Linked DNA regions of Homo sapiens: region 2 is linked to region 1. Evidence: fine-mapped expression QTL. A gene starts in region 1. The other region holds a variant in brackets. All regions are shown on one strand. Distances are between the middles of the regions. Region 1 holds the start of TFPT (TCF3 fusion partner). Region 2 overlaps VSTM1 (V-set and transmembrane domain containing 1).

Region 1 (8,402 bases):
GCTGGAGGTTAGGGCAGGAGGTGCGACTTTAGTTACGACCTGCAGAGAAGGCCCGTGGGCCCAGACTTGAATAAGGAGGAGACAAAGGGGTGACAGGAGGAAAGTATGCCAGGCTGAGGGGACAGCCCTGCACGCAGCTTCTGAGGACTCCAGCCTAGACATGGAGGGAGAGATGTGACTCAGCCAAACAGGGACCCAAAGACAGTGGCTGAAGCAGGTGCTGCTCCTGGGTCAGAAAGACCTGAGTTCCGGGCGGGGCACAGTGGCTCACGCCTGTAATCCCAGCACTTTGGGAGGCCGGGGCGGGCAGATCACTTGAGGTCAGGAGTTCAAGACCAGCCTGGCCAACATGGTGAAACCCCGTCTCTACTAAAGATACAAAAATTGGCCGGATGTTGTGGCACATGCCTGTAATCTCAGCTACTCAAGAGTTTGAGGTCGGGAGTTGCAGACCAGCCCGGCCAACATGATGAGACCTCATCTCTACTAAAAAAAAAAAAAAAAAAAGAAAAATACAAAAATTAGCTGGGTATGGTGGCGCATGCCTGTAATCCCAGTTTCTCAGGAGGCTGAGGCAGGAGAATCGCTTGAACCCAGGAGCTGGAGGTTGCAGTGAGCCGAGATCACACCACTGCCCTCCAGCCTGGGTGACAGAGTAAGACTCTGTCTCAAAAGAAAAAAAAAAAAAAAAAGTGCCAGGCACGGTGGCTCACGCTTGTAATCCCAGCACTTTCAGAGGCCAAGGCGAGCGGATCACCTGAGGTCAGGAGTTTGAGACCAGCCTAACGTGGTGAAACCCTGTCTCTACTAAAAATACAAAATTAGCCAGGTGTAGTGGCGCATGCCTGTAATCCCAGCTACTCGGGAGGCTGAGGCAGGAGAATCGCTTGAACCCAGGAGGCGGAGGTTGCAGTGAGCTGAGATTGCAGCATTGCACTCCAGCCTGGACAACAAGAGCGAAAATCCATCTAAAAAAAAAGAGTTCAAGTTTTGGCTCTGGCTTGGCACAGTGGCTCATGCCTATAATCCCAGCACTTTGAGAGGCCAGGAGTTCGACACCAGCCTGGGCAACAGAGTGAGACCCCAACACTCAAAAACTAACCAAAAAAATTAGCTGGGCTTGGTGGCTGTAGTCCCAGCTCCTTCGGAGGCTGAGATTGCTAGAGTCCAGGATGTTGGGGCTGCAGTGAGCCACAGTCATGCCACTGCACTCCAGCCTGGGCAACAGAGAAAGACCCTGTCTCAAAAAAAAAAAAAAAATCTCAGATCTGCCACTGCTGAGCTCTGAGCTTGGGTGCATTACTTAACCTCTCTGAGCCTTGATTTTCTATACTTGTAAAATAGTAGTAATCTATTCCTGGGGGTGGATTAATGGCAGAGGCTCCAGTTGAGTCCGTTTGGGCCTTGGTGTCTGTCTGTTAAACAGGGTTTGGAATATGCCCCTGGCCTCTAGCCTTCCTCCTTACAGAACTCCCCAATACTGTCATTAAGAATTGAGGCCAGATGTGGTGGCTCATGCCTGTAATCCTAGCATTTTGGGAGGTCAAGGCGAGTGGATCACTTGAGGTCAGGAGTTCAAGACCAGCCTGGGCAACATGGCAAAACCCCATCTCTACAAAAAGTACAAAAATTAGCCAGGTGTGGTGGTGTGTGCCTGTAGTCCCAGCTATTTTGGGGGCTGAGGCAGGAGGACTGCTTGAACCTGGGAGACTGAGGCTGCAATGAGCTGAGATTGCGCCACTGCACTCCAGCTTTGGTGACAAAGTGAGAACCTGTCTCAAGAAAGAGAAAAAGAGTTGAAGGCCAGGCGTGGTGGCTCAAGCCTGTAATCCCAGCACCTTGGGAGGCTGAGGTGGGCAGATCACCTGAGGTCAGGAGTTTGAGACCAGCCTGACCAACATGGTGAAACCCTGTCTCTACTAAAAATAGAAAAATTAGCTGGGTGTGGTGGCGGGCGCCTGTAATCCCAGCTACTAGGGAGGCTGAGTCAGGAGAATCACTTGAACCCAGGAGGTGGAGGTTACAGTGAGCTGAGATGGTGCCATTGCACTCCAGCCTGGGAGACAAGAGCGAGACTCCACCTCAAAAAAAAAAAAAAAAAAAAAAAAAAAAGTTGAATTATTTCCCCCAAAAGAGGGTGTTGAGGCTTTAACCCCCAGTACCTCAGGATCACCTTATATGGAGACAGTGTCGTTACAAAAGTAATCAAGTTCAAATGAAGCCAGTGGGTGGGCCCTAATCCAGTATGACTGGAGTCCTTATAAAAAGGGTAAATTGGGACACAGACACACACACAGGGAGCAGCAATGTGAAGATGAAGGCGGAGATCAGGGTGATGTTTGTACGTGCCAATGACTGCCAGAAACCTCCAGAAGCCAGGGGAGAGGCCTGGAAGATTCTCACAACCCTGTCGACACCTTGCCTTGGATGTCTAGCCTCCAGAACTGTCAGACAGGAATTTCTGTGCTTGAGGGACCCTATTTGTGATAAGTTCTGGGAGTCCAAGCAGACTAATACAACTGTCTTCAGAGTTTCAGGCATCCAGACCTGATGCTGTTCCTCCCCCATTTGAAACCCTTCAGTGGCTCCTTCACTCTCAAGGAAAAAAAAATATCCAGACTTCTTGTCCTGGTGTTCCTGGCCTGCCAAGATCTGAGCCCTGCCTGCTGTTTAATCCTCATTGATTGATTGATTGATTTTGAGACGGAGTCTCACTCTGTCACCCAGGCTGGAGTACAGCAGCATGATCTTGGCTCACTGCAACCTCCGCCTTCCGGGTTCAAGCAATTCTCATGCCTCAGCCTCCCTAGTAGCTGCGACTACAGGTGCGCACCACCACACCTGGCTAATTTTTTTGTATTTTAGTAGAGATGGGGTTTCACCATGTTGGCCAGGCTGGTCTCGAACTCCTAACCTCAGGTGATCCGCCTGCCTCAGCCTCCCAGTGCTAGGATTACAAGCGTGAGCCACCATGCCCAGCCCATCCTTATTCTCAGCAAGGAGGCTATTGCAGTCATTCAGCCCAGACAGCTGGAGTTTGCAATGGCAGCCATAGGGATGGAGGAGAGGAGAAGGGTCCAGAGACACTCAAGAGGCGGAATGAATGAGTCGAGAGGAGTGAATCCTGGCAGGGGTATGGGAGATGTGAAGAGCTTGGGCTTTCACCTGTGAGCGGTGCCACGCATTGAGAGGCCCCCGGGAGACATCAGAGAACCCATCTGCGTTGTCAGGGAAGCTCCACGGGAGATGGCCCTTCCAGGGGCCCGGCACAGGGCCAGACACATAATGCATGCTAAATGACTGAATATATAAGCTAAATGACTGAATATATCAGCAAGCCAAGAAAGGCTGGGCATGTGGAAAGGCAGAGATTGCGGGGGGCGGTAGTTTAGGCCAGGGGACCCCAAAACCGGGGGATCCGCACTCACCTACCTGCTCGATCTCCCGGCAGCGCCGACCTAGTGCCTGGTACTTTCTGCGATTTAATTCCCGCTGGCGCCGCCGCCGACCCCGGGCTGCCTCTTCCTCTTCATCTCGCTCCCGGAGCCCTGAGCCGCCCAGACCACCTGACACAAACTCCACTTCCGTCTCCAGCTCGCTCTCCAGGATGTGGCCACCAAATAGGGGAGGCAACGCCAACTCTGAGCCTGGCGGCGCTGAGAACTCCTCAAAGCCCACGGCTGCCATGGTCCTGAGAGGCAGGGAAAGGCTCAGGGGCCCTGGATCCTGGACCCCCAGCCCCTTCTCCCACTGAACCAGGAGCCCAGACCCCAACCCCTCCTCCCTGAGATCCTAGAATCCAGGCCCCCAGCCCCTCCTCCCTCAGACCGTAGAATCCAGCTCCCAGCCCTCCTCCCTCAGACCCAGAAGTCCAAGTCCGCAACCCACCCTTCGCAGCACCCACAGGGTTCAAGCCCTGACCCCCTCCTCCCAGGATGCAAGAGTCCAGACCTCCAGACTTTTTCTCTCCAAGGACCCAGGGAGTCCAAGCCCCAACCCTCAACCAGACGCAAGAGTCCTGGCTTCCAACCTCCTAGTCTGTCAGATCCAGCAGTCCAAACCCCTAACCTTCTCCTCCCTCAGGATGACCCCAGTCCATAAAAGGGTTCTAAGGTAAAGCAGTTGCATGAACTACAACCCCCATCAGACCTCAGCGTAAAAGCTCATATGGTTGCACACAATGCAGCTGCACTGTTTTCTGGGATTCGCACTTTTTCACAAGGGCTCAGCCACATACCCTTCTCTCTGCTCCAATTCCATCTCCGCGACCTCCGGAAGCCCCGGGCCTCAGAGCTTCCGACCTCTTCAATCTGTAGGTTAAGCCGTTCGCAAAACTACTTGTCCCATCAGGCTCAGCAGCCGAGGACGGCGGGACGTGGCCCTAGGCCTTGTGGGAGTTGTAGTTTCCTGTTTCCGGCTTCGCTTCGGCCCACCCCCACGTCCACCCCGAATCCCTGCTTAAAGGCCTTGCTTTCTTGTCTAACGCCGCAACCAGTCCTCTGAGTTGCCAACGTCTTTCTTCTTGTCTCGACGCCCCGTCGTCCGGCCACAGCGATTCTCTGCTTAGCAGGATCGGTCCACAGCGGGACGTGAGTCCCTTTCCTCCTCGCGGCTTACCGCCTCTCTCCGCCTAGTGCCAGGTGCTAATAAAGTTGTTGTTTCAAATGCGGCCAGGAACATCGCGAGCGGGGACCAATCAGAGAGTAGCTTTGCCTCTATAACGGCGCGAGAGTGAGACGTCATCGGTGAGCGACTAACGCTAGAAACAGTGGTGCGCGGAGAGGAGAGGTGAGTGTGATGGGGACCACGGGGAGCGGGAGGCTGGGCTCCTGGGTCTGGGAGAAGAAGTGTGTGAGGAAAAAGGCGGGTCTTTACAGCTTGGTTTTTGTTTTTTTGTTGTTTGTTTGTTTTGAGACGGAGTCTCGTTCTGTTGCCCAGGTTGGAGAGCAGTGGCGCGATCTCGGCTCATTGCAACCTCCGTCTCCCGGGTTCAAACGATTCTTCTGCCTCAGCCTCCAGAGTAGCTGGGATTACAGGCGCCCGCCACCACCCCTGACTAATTTTTGTATTTTTAGTAGAGACGGGGTTTCCCCATGTTGGTCAGGCTGGTCTCGAACTCCTGATCTCGTGATCCGCCCGCCTCGGCCTCCCAAAGTGCTGTGATTACAGGCATGATCCACCGCGCCTGGCCAGTTGTTTGTTTGTTTTGTCTGAGACGGAGTTTCGCTCTTGTTGCCCAGGCTGGAGTGCAGTGGCGCGATCTCGGTTCACTGCAACCTCCGCCTCCCGGATTCAAGCGATTCTCCTGCCTCAGCCTCCCGAGTAGCTGGGATTACAGGCGCGCACCACCACGCCCGGCTAGTTTTTTGTATTTTTAGTAGAGACGGGGTTTCACTATGTTGGCCAGGCTGGTCTCCAACTCCTGACCTCAGATGATCCACCCGCCTGGGCCTCCCAAAGTGCTGGGATTACAGGCATGAGCCACCGCTCCCGGCCTTTTACAGCCTGTTTACCCAAAAGTCTTAATATGCGCCTACCATGGTGTGGCCCTGGGGATGTGGAAGGAGCAAAAATTGTTCGCTACCCTCTTAGAGCTTTGGTTGATGCCTGGCAGACAGGCTTTATCAAATAATTACTTCATTAATCACAAATGTGTGAAGTGCCTTACTGTAGACACGCAGAGCGTGCGGGACACGTTATCACAAAGCAACCTCCTGTAGTCTAGAGTGGGGCGTGTGGGTCAGGGAGGTGGAACGTGAGAGCTGAAGGCTGAGGAGATGCTGGGCTACTAAGAAGTGAGGAGAGCCAGACGCCATGGCTCACTCCTGTAATCCCAGCACTTTGGGTGGCCCAGGCGAAAGGATCGCTTGAGCCCAGGAGTTTGAGACCAGCCTGAGCAACACAGTGAGACCCTGTCTCTACAGAAAAATTTAAAAATTAGCCGGGCGTGCTGGTGCGTGCCTGTCATCTCAGCTATCGGGAGGCTGAGGCGGGAGAATCGCTTGAGCCCAGGTGATCGAGGCTGCCGTGAGCTATGATGGCGCCACTGCACTGCAGCCTAGGTGACAGAGCAAGACATGGTCTCAAAAAAAAGAAAAGAAAAGAAAAAACAAAGTGAAGGAAAGGGCCACTTTAGTTACAAGGGACTCCTGTACAAAGACCTGGAGGCGGGAAGAGACCGATAATGTAACCAACTCAAGTTTCTGCTACTCAGAGGCAGAGGAAGTGGGGGGTGGTGAAAGTAAAGCAGCTTTACTGATCAAATGCTCGCAGATGAGAAATGGCCAAGCTAATGTCTTTAGAAGACCATTTCAAGCTTTAGGCTGGGGAGAGGGGCTTAAAAAGGGGAACTTTGAATGGGAGGCATACAGGAGTGGTGCTGGGTACAAGGTATGTGTGTCTTGCTCCGAAGGCTGTCTTGAGTCACGGGCCACCTGGAGCATGGGCTGGTGTCAAGTCAACAATGGCCACGTTGTAGATTGATCGCCTTGAGGTGATCTCTGGAGTTTTGCAGCTGGGTTTCCATACCTAGTTTGTTTCAAGATTAGCCCCTGCGGCGAGGCGCGGTGGCTTACGCCTGTAATCCCAACAGTTTGGGAGGCCAAGGTGGGTCGCTCACTTGAGGTCAAGAGTTCAAGACCAGCCTGGCTTACATAGTGAAACCTTGACTCTACAAAAAAAAAAAAAAAAAATTAGCTGGGCATGGTGGCAGGTGCCTGTAGTCCCAGCTACTCAGGAGGCTGAGGCAGGAGAATCGCTTGAACCCAGGAGGTGGAGGTTGCAAGTGAGCCAAGACTGCGCCACTGCACTCCAACCTGGGTGTCAGAGCCAGACTCCATCTTTAAAAAATAAATAAATAAAGATTAGCCCCTGGAACTTCTAAGTAAGCACATAGATAAGCCAGCAGTGCAAGACAGTATCTAGTGGGAAAGGAGGGAAACAAAGAATTTCAAAGTATGTTTTCAAGGCTAAAGGCAAGAAAGGAATAAGAAAGTTTGCAAATGCATTTGGAATCTACACCACTTGGTTCCAGTAAGTCTTAGCAAGGTGGCGGTCATAGGGGTGTGCTGCGTCTTGCACAGGTCGGAGCTGGAGACTCGCCAGTGAACAAAACAAACTAAAGCACCTGTTGTCGTGGAGCCTGCATGCTAGTGGGGTTGATAAAGAAGGACCAGGGTCTTCTGGGGGAGAATCATCGCTCAGTAATAAGGAGGGACTTTGTCGGGGCAAGTTTTTAGGGAACGCTGCTGTCCCTCCCCAGGCCTCGGGATGTCTCTGGCAGATGAGCTCTTAGCTGATCTCGAAGAGGCAGCAGAAGAGGAGGAAGGAGGAAGCTATGGGGAGGAAGAAGAGGAGCCAGCGATCGAGGATGTGCAGGAGGAGACACAGCTGGATCTTTCCGGGGATTCAGTCAAGACCATCGCCAAGCTATGGGATAGTAAGATGGTAAGAGGACAAGAGGTGTTCCTAGCAGGGGGCTCTAGACAGAATCTCCCAGAAGGGGGTGATACAGGCTTCTTTTTGAAGAGTGCTGGATTCTGACTGTCTTCTCCTTTCCTACAGTTTGCTGAGATTATGATGAAGATTGAGGAGTATATCAGCAAGCAAGCCAAAGCTTCAGAAGGTGCTTCCTCCCACTCTGTGCCCCTCCCCATCTCCTGTCTCTCCTGCCAGGCCCCCTGGCTCCCTGGCTGCTTGTGGCTGGGTATATCTCCTTCTCAGCCTTTTCCAGAGCCTTCTTTTTTTTTTGTTTCACCCCAACCCGTTCCCTTTTCCACTAAATATATATTGCATTGTAAAGCTCATGCTTCTTAAGTCCTTCCTGTGTGCTGAGCTTACTGATCATGATAGGACTCAGCTTGAGGTTTCCCAGACTTCACTGATTCACATGACCGGTTACAGGGTTTTTGCCACATCTATAAGCCGCTTATCCTATTATTTGCTTAACATATTCTTTGAGTCTAGGACTTTTTTTCTTAAATTTATCTGAGAAGGAAGCAAATTGCTACCATGAATGGAAAACTGGTATCATTTGGCAAAGACAAAGTCACTGTATAAAAATAGATATATAATTATTTAGGAACCACCTAAGGCCGGGCGCCGTGGCTCACGCCTGTAATCCCAGCACTTTGGGAGGCGGAGGCAGGTGGATCATGAGTTCAGGAGATCGAGACCATCCTGGCTAACACGGTGACACCCCGTCTCTACTAAAAATACAAAAAATTAGCCAGGCGTGGTGGCGGGTGCCTGTAGTCCCAGCTACTCAGGAGGCTGAGGCGGGAGAATGGCGTGAACCTGGGAGGCGGAGCTTGCAGTGAGCCGAGATCGTGCCACTGCACTCCAGCCTGGGCGACAGAGCAAGACTCCGTCTCAAAAAAAAAAAAAATAACCTAAAACCTTTT
Region 2 (8,262 bases), 68 kb before region 1:
GCAATATCAAGTCTCCCCTGGATCCCCTGCCTGCCTGCCCTGCAGATTTCAGACTTGCCAGCTCCCCACAATCACGTGAACCAATCCATTAAAATCAATCTCTCTCTCCATATATGTATATACATGTATATGTTCTCTTTTTTTTTTTTGAGACAAAGTCTCACTCTTATCGTCCAGGCTGGAGTGCAATAGTGCAATCTTGGCTCACTGCAAGCTCCGCCTCCCGGGTTCAAGCAATTCTCCTGCCTTAGCCTCCTGAGTAGCTGGGATTACAGGTGCCCACCATCACGCCCGGCTAATTTTTGTATTTTTAGTAGAGACGGGGTTTCGCCATGTTGGCCACGCTGGTCTTGAACTACTGACCTCAGGCAATCTGCCTGCCTCGGCCTCCCAAAGTGCTGGGATTACAGGCGTGAGCCACCACACCCAGCTTATATCTATATGTTCTATTGGTTCTGTTTTTCTGGAAAACCCTGGCTAACACAGACATGATCTCAGCTCTTAACTTCAAACATATTTCCTTTTTCTTTTTTTAAAGGAGAGAGAGAGATGTGAAAGGACGGGATGTGAAGATTATGGGGAGAGGGTGAGGGCAATGGAGGGGAGAGGAGGGGAGAGGAGGGAGGTCACAGATGGGAGCTCAGGATGCCAATCCCAGATGTGCCAATGGGTTCCCATTGTTGCCCAGGCTAGAGTGCAGTGGTGTGATCATACTCGAATTCCTGGGCTCAAGTGGTCCTCCTCACTCGGCCTCCAGGGTAGCTGGGAGTACAGACCACCACGCCCAGCCAACTTCAAACACACTTCAATGAGCTCGTTGATGCCAGGTAATGAACAGCAGTGACACGGGCATGGAAGGCGTTTAGAGTGGGGAGGGGTGGGGCTCTCTGAAGGAGACATGATTCCCCAAGACACAGAACAAGGGATCAGCTGGGAGAATTCAGGGAGGATTCCTAATAAGAACAGGGTTAGAGCAGGGTAGAAAAGAATGACCAGTGGCCGGGCACGGTGGCTCACGCCTGTAATCCTGGCACTTTGGGAGAGTGAAGTAGGTGGATCACTTGAGGTCTGGAGTTCGAGACCAGCCTGGCCAACATGGTGAAACCCTGTCTCTACTGAAAATATAAAAAATAAGCTGGGCATGGTGGCGCACGCCTGTAGTCCCAGCTACTCAGGAGGCTGAGAGAAGAGAATTGCTTGAACCTGGGAGGCGGAGGTTGCAGTGAGCCGAGATCGCATCACTGCATCATACACTCAACTGACCAAGACTCCAACTCAAAAAAGCATCCCTCTCAGGAGATAAAATTTCTACCAATTAAAAAACAAAAACAAAACAAAACAAAAAAAACTAGTTCTTGAGCAATATTGCCATGCAAGTCTACATCATAGCGTTTTAAAGTCTTAACAACAACCCTGCAAGGTAGTACAATTATTTCCCTCCCACTGGTGAAGGGCATGCATTCCCGTGTGACTCCTGGGATTACAGCAAGGGTTGTGTCCAAAGCTCACAGCGTTGAGGAAGAGAGAGCAACCTGTTACTAAAGCTAGGCGACAGAGTCCATGCAGTTCCCCCCCGTTTTTTGTTTTTCTTGGCACTTTAGATTCAAGAAACACAAGTCGTGAGACTTTAAGGAGTAAGTAGCAGAAACGTGATTAAGGAAAAAAGTTGAGCAACTATAGAAGTGAGGCCCCAGAAAGGGGCTTCACCAAGACCCCCGCTATCTTTGTTAGTGTGCTTTGAGTCTGAGAATTTTTCCTAGGTGTGCAATGATCTGTGGTCACATTACAGAGCCAAGTCTGAGATGCTTCACACGCCTGGTCCTCTGCACCAACAGAGGGTCTCCCATCCAGACGCTTCCCCTACTTGGTTCGCTATGTTTGCATTGGCATTTCTACATATCTATATATAGAGAATTACCTATCTAATTTATCTATCTCGCTAATCTATCTACCATCTGTCTAGGTATCTATTATCTATCTACCTATCTATCTTTATCTGTCTCTGTACCTACTTACCTATCATCTATCCAATCTATCCGTCCTATCTAATTATGATTTATCTATCTACCTACTTGCCTATCACCTATCCAATCTATCTATCCTATCATATGTAATTAACTATCTGTCTGTCTAATTTTTCTATCTTGTTAATCTATCACTTATCTAGGCATCTATGTATCTATCTTTATCTGTCTATCCACCTGCTTACCTGCTGTCTGTCTAATCTATCCATCCTATCATATCTAATTATCACTTATCTATCTACCGACTTACCTATCATCTAGTTACCAAATCTATCATCTATCTAATGTATCTATCAATCATAACCAGTTATCTATCATCTATCATCTATCATCTGTATGTATCTGTCTATTCACCTACTATTATCTATTTAATCTATTCTATCTAGTTATCTATCTATCTATCCACCTACTTATCTAATTTTTCTATCTTGCAACTCTATCACCTATCTAGGTATCTATGTATCTATCTGTGTATCTGTATATCTATCTATCTATCTAGCTAGCTTTATCTAGCTACCTAGTTACCTATCATCTATCTATCTAATCTATCATCTATCTAATGTATCTATCAATCATATCTAATTATCTGTCTATCTAATCATCTATCTTATCTATTATATCTAGTTATCTATCATCTAGCTAGCTAGCTAATCTATCTGTATCTATCTACCTACTTACCTATCGTCTATTTATCTATCTAATCTATCATATCTAGTTATCTATCTACTTACTTATCTAACCTGTTGTATCTAGTTATCTATCTACCTACTTACCTATCATCTGTCTATCTATCTAATCTGTCCATCGTATCTAGCTACTTATCTACCTATCATCTATGTATCTATCTAATCTATCATATCTAGTTATCTATTTATCTGCCTACTTGCCTATTATCTATCACATCTAATTATCTATCTATCCCCCTCCCTGAAATAAGGTTCTTTCTGAGCTGATCATCAGGGAGCAGCAAAAGGAGTGGGGAGTTTGAAACAAGACATATTTGAGTTCTAGTACTGGGTCTCCTACCTCCTGACTTTGTAAATGTTCCCTTCCCTTTCTGGAATACGTTATTTTTTGGTTAAATATAAGGAGGGGGCAGAGAGCTAATAATATCTAACTTGAAGAGTTAGGTAATGATGAAAAATCCTGGCTTTAAAGCGCTCAGTCTAGAAACTGACTCATTGTGTCGGATAATGGGATTGTAGGTATAATGATGATTTTTTTTCACCCAATATTCCACCTACACCCATCTCTCTCTGTAATAGATTCTGTCAATGTTCCTCAACCCATGTTCCCCAGATCCCTTTCCCATTTTTATGCATTCTAGATCGTGGCTTCTTTCCCTTTCCAAAGTGAACATTTGTATCTCTTCTTTGGGGGACTGCCTGGGAGAACTCCAAATGCCTTGGAATTTACATGCCCGGGACAAACTGCCACTGACGGCTGTGGGGACCCCAGCTCCCTAGCCTCTGGTCTTCGACCTTCTCTGTCTCCACTGCTTTCTGCAGGATGGAGCCAAAGATACCATCTGAGGGACACAGATATCCCACACTTGTTTAATCTATTTTCCTCCCAGCCCTTCTTCCCCACTCCCTAAAATGTAATTTTCAAGCCAGGCGTGGTGGCTCACACCTGTAATCCCAGCACTTTGGGAGGTCGAGGCAGGCAGAGCACCTGAGGTCAGGAGTTCGAGACCAGCCTGACCAACATGGAGAAACCCCGTCTCTACTAAAAATAGAATATTAGCTGGGTGTGGTGGTGCATGCCTGTAATCCCAGCTATTTGGGAGGCTGAGGCAGGAGAATCTCTTGAACCTGGTAGGCGGAGGTTGCAGTGAGCCAAGATCACGCCATTGCACTCCAGCCTGGGCAACAAGAGCGAAACTCTGTCTCAAAACTAAATAAATAATAAATAAAATAAAACGTCACTTTCACACTAATGCTGTCTAAGAGCCTGCTTCTGGTGGAGCTGAATCAGAGAACCCCTCAAAAGCAACAATTTTTTTTTTTTTGAGACAGTCTCACTCTGTCTCCCAGGCTGGAGTGCAGTGGTACAATCTCGGCTTTGGAACCTCCCCCTCTGGGGTTCAAGCAATTCTCCTGCCTCAGCCTCCCAAGGAGCTGGGATTACAAGCACCCGCCACCTCACCCCGCTAATTTTTTATATTTCTAGTAGAGATGAGGTTTCACCATGTTGGTTAGGCTGGTCTCAAACTCCAGAGCTCAAGTGTTCTGCCCACTTTGGCCTCCCAAAGTGCTGGGATTACATAAGCCACCATGCCTGGCCATAAGCAACAATTCTATCAGTGCATCTCCAAGGACTTATGAAAACAGGGCAGGAACAGCTGCTCCTGGACTCTCAGTTTCCCCAGATGGAAGCAGAGAAACAGCAGCCTTGCCTTGTCCTTTCTGTTCTCCCCTTTTCCAGCCTACGGTATCTTTCACACAGCAATTCACTAGAAATGAGAAGTACATTATTGCAAAATTCTCATCTTCATATGACCCCATAATCAGCTGAACTGGGTTCACCCTGAGATGTCCACAGATCCTGGCCAAATGTTGCATCAGTATTTGCAAATTGCCAGAATAAATCATAACTTGCTACGCTACTAAAGTCAGCGTGAGCAACAAGATACAGCCTGACACGGGGCATAAATGGAGGCACAGGCACCAGAAAGAAAGTCAAGTCTTGTGTGATAAAATTCATCTTCATTCTCTACATTGC[G/A]ATTGAACATAGAGTCGTTTTCTAGTGTGTTTTAGGCATATAAATACAGGCTGGGGACATCATACCTGTGCTTACAGATATTTTACTTTTATTTTATTTATTTACTGAAACAGGGTCTCGCTCTGTCACCCAGGCTGGAGTGCTGTGGCGCAATCACAGTTCACTGAAGCCTCAACCTCCTGGGCGCAAACGATCTTTCTGCCTGAGCCTCCCAAGTAGCTGGGACTACAGGTGCACACCACCACGCCTGGCTAATTTTTGTATTTTTTGTAGAGATGGGATCTTACCAAGTTGTCCAGGCTGGTCTTGAACCCCTGGGCTCAAGTGATCCTCCTGCCTCATCTTCCCAAAGTCCTGGTATTACAGACGTGAGCCACTGCGCCCGGCAAAGATATTTTATTCTGTTTAGAATTGTGATGATACAAATTTGAACTCAAAAAGTACATTTTAAGAAATTATATAATACCCACTGGGATGGCTATAATTTAAAAAAAGAAAAGTAAGTGTTGACAAGGATGTGGAGATATTGGAACCCACATATATTACTGGAAGGAATATAACATGATACAGCCACAATGGAAAATGATTTGGCAGTTCCTCAAAAAGTTGAACATAATAGTCACCATATGTCCTAGCAAATCCACTTCTAGGTACATACTCAAGATAATTTACAGCGCGGAGACAAACAGATACTCCTACCACAGTGTTCCAGCACCATTACTCGCTTTAGCCAAGAGGTGCAGACAACACAAATGTCCATCAAAAGAAGAACGGGGCCAGGCACAGTAGCTCAAGTCTGTAATCCCAGCACTTTGGGAAGCTGAGGCGTGTGGATCACCTGAGGTCAGGAGTTCGAGACCAGCCTAGCCAACATGGTGAAACCCCCTCTCTACTAAAAATACACAAATTAGCTAGGCATGGTGACGGGCGCCTGTAGGTCCAGCTACTCAGGAGGTTAAGGCAAAAGAATCACTTAAACCTGGGAGGCGGAGGTTGCAGTGAGCTGAGATTGTGCCACTGCACTCCAGCCTGGGCGACAGAGCAAGACTCCGTCTCAAAAAAACAAAAACAAAAACAAAAAAAAGAATGGATAAGCAAAATGTGGTCTATCCATACAATACGATGCTTTTCACCATGACAAGAAATGAAACATTGATGCATGCTACAGTACAGACAAACTTTGAAAACATTATGCTAAAGAGAAAGGAGCTAGTCACAAAGGATCACATAGTGTATGAATCCACTTACACAAAATGTCCAGAATAGACAAAATCATAGACACAGAGAAGCATATGAATGGTTGGAAGGGCCTGGTGGGAAAGTGGGAAATGAGGAGTGACTGCTTAATGGGTACAAGATTTTCTTTTAGGGTGATGAGAATGTTCTGGAATTATGTAGTGGTGATGGTTATACTACCTCATGAAGATACAAAATGCCAGTGAATTGGACACTTTACAAGGGTGAATTTTTGGACTGTGAATTATATATCAATAAAAAAAGAAAGAAAATAAATGATACAAGAGCTCAAAATAGAAAAGCTTCTCTTCCTCCTCCCCCTCACACCTCACTAGATCTCCCACCTCGTTTCTGATACTTCTGTGTTCCTCTCTCCCATTAGATTTCATATCTTTCTCAGAAAACGTTCCTGACGTGAATTGTGTTCGTAGTGCTAGGGTAGCAGACATTTCCCAAGCCTACTATCATGGAATAAAAACGTTTCAAATAGTTATCTTGCAAGAACACTTTGGAGGATACCTTTTTGAAAACCGATTATACCAGCACAGACTGCTAGCAACAACCTTCAGCAACTTTGGCTCTTTGGAGTAGGTTGCAGGAAGATTATGACTTGCTGAAAGGAAGGATGATTAAGCATCTAGATGCCAATTTATATTCTGCATTTGGCCCTTAAAGTCTGGATGAGTTCCTGTTTCAGCCGAATGCTGCCAAAAGCTCTAACTTTTTAATTTTTTTTTTTTTTTTTTTTTTTTGGAGACAGAGTCTCACTCTGTTGCCCAGGCTGGAGGGCAGTGGTGTAATCTCGGCTCACTGCAACCTCTGCCTCCCAGGTTCAAGCAATTCTCCTGCCTCAGTCACTTGAGTAGCTGGGAATACAGGCGCCCACCACAATGCCCAGCAAATTTTTGTATTTTTAGTAGAGACAGGGTTTCACCATGTTGCCCAGGCTGGTTTCGAACTCCTGACCTCAGGTGATCCGCCCACCTCGGCCTCCCAAAGTGCTGGGATTACAGATGTGAGCCACCTCGCCTGGCCCAAAAGCTCTAATTTTTATGAGAAACTCTGAGGACAGAATCTTAGTCAATTGTTAATGAATAAGCAACATTAGAAAAAAAATTCAATATTCACCTATTTTTGAGAATTTTAGAGTTATAACAAACTCTTGATTATATATATTCCTGAAGTACCTACTCTGCGTAGGTCCTGGTCCTACTCCCCAAATGGGTCACTGAAAAATTCACCCCCATTATTCCCCAAATCCCACCCTAGTTTTTCATCATGTCATATGGCAAACAACGCACTCTGTGCTGTTTTACACACCAGCTTCTTCAGAACCCGGAAGCACTTTAGAGGTTATCTCCCCTCATCCTCCACCCCCCAAAACACAGCAGTTTCCCCAATAACATTGAGAAAATGGGCTTTAAAGTTCTTCTAGGCCGGGTGCGGTGGCTCATGCCTGTAATCCCAACACTTTGAGAGGCCGAGGCGGGGGAATTGCTTGAGGTCAGGAGTTTGATACCAGCCTGGCCAACATGGTGAAACCCCATCTCTACTAAAAACAAAAAACAAAAAACAAAACTGAGCTGGATATGGTGGTGGGTGCCTGTAATCCCAGCTATTCGGGAGGCCGAGGCAGGAGAATTGCTTGAACCCAGAACCCAGGAAGTGGAGGTTGCAGTGAGCTGAGATTGTGCCACTTCACGCCACCCTGGGGGACAGAACAAGACTCTTTCTCAAAAAAATAAATAGGCCGTGTGCGGTGGCTCACGCCTGTAATCCCAGCACTTTGGGAGGCTGAGGCGGGCAGATCACAAGGTCAGGAGTTCGAGACCAGCCTGGCCAACATGGTGAAACCCCGTCTCTACTAAAAATACAAAAATTAGCTGGGTGTGGTGGTGCGTGCCTGTAGTCCCAGCTATTCGGGAGGCTGAGGCAGGAAAATTGCTTGAATCCGGGAGGCGAAGGTTGCAGTGAGCTGAGATTGCGCCACTGTACTCCAGCCTTGGTGACAAAGCGAGACTCTATCTCAAAAAACAAACAAACAAACAAACAAACAAATAAATAAAGTTCTCCTTGTGCACTTTAAGCAAAGGTGATCATGAAGCAGATCTCATTGGGAAAAACATCTCCTTTCTAATTATCTTACCTGTTTTCATTGAGGGAGCTTCAAGTTCATCGTGTTTATCTAGAAAATAGGAGGGAAGAAAAGGAATTACACTAATCATACAGGAACCTTGGGGACAGGAGTCCTCACGTCCTACTTATAGACATCCTGTTC

The links. PIP is the estimated chance that this variant, and not a neighbour inherited with it, causes the effect.
Region 2: its variant is fine-mapped to the expression of TFPT in whole blood (INTERVAL, PIP 0.93).

What each region holds. Positions count from the first base shown.
Region 1 is chr19:54,111,010-54,119,411 of GRCh38, forward strand. It overlaps TFPT (TCF3 fusion partner), which reads right to left and starts at 4,648. Exons shown (of 6, transcript NM_013342.4): 1 at 4,238-4,648; 2 at 3,433-3,691. The coding sequence starts at 4,260. PRPF31 (pre-mRNA processing factor 31) reads left to right here and starts at 4,745. Exons shown (of 14, transcript NM_015629.4): 1 at 4,745-4,788; 2 at 7,262-7,446; 3 at 7,564-7,624. The coding sequence starts at 7,270. RefSeq lists an enhancer at 2,934-3,807.
Region 2 is chr19:54,043,280-54,051,541 of GRCh38, forward strand. VSTM1 (V-set and transmembrane domain containing 1) reads right to left here. Exons shown (of 9, transcript NM_198481.4): 4 at 8,131-8,169. Among named protein-coding and RNA genes, the nearest start is that of VSTM1, 16 kb to the right of the region's middle. The variant G/A (reference allele first, on the strand shown) is at 4,749.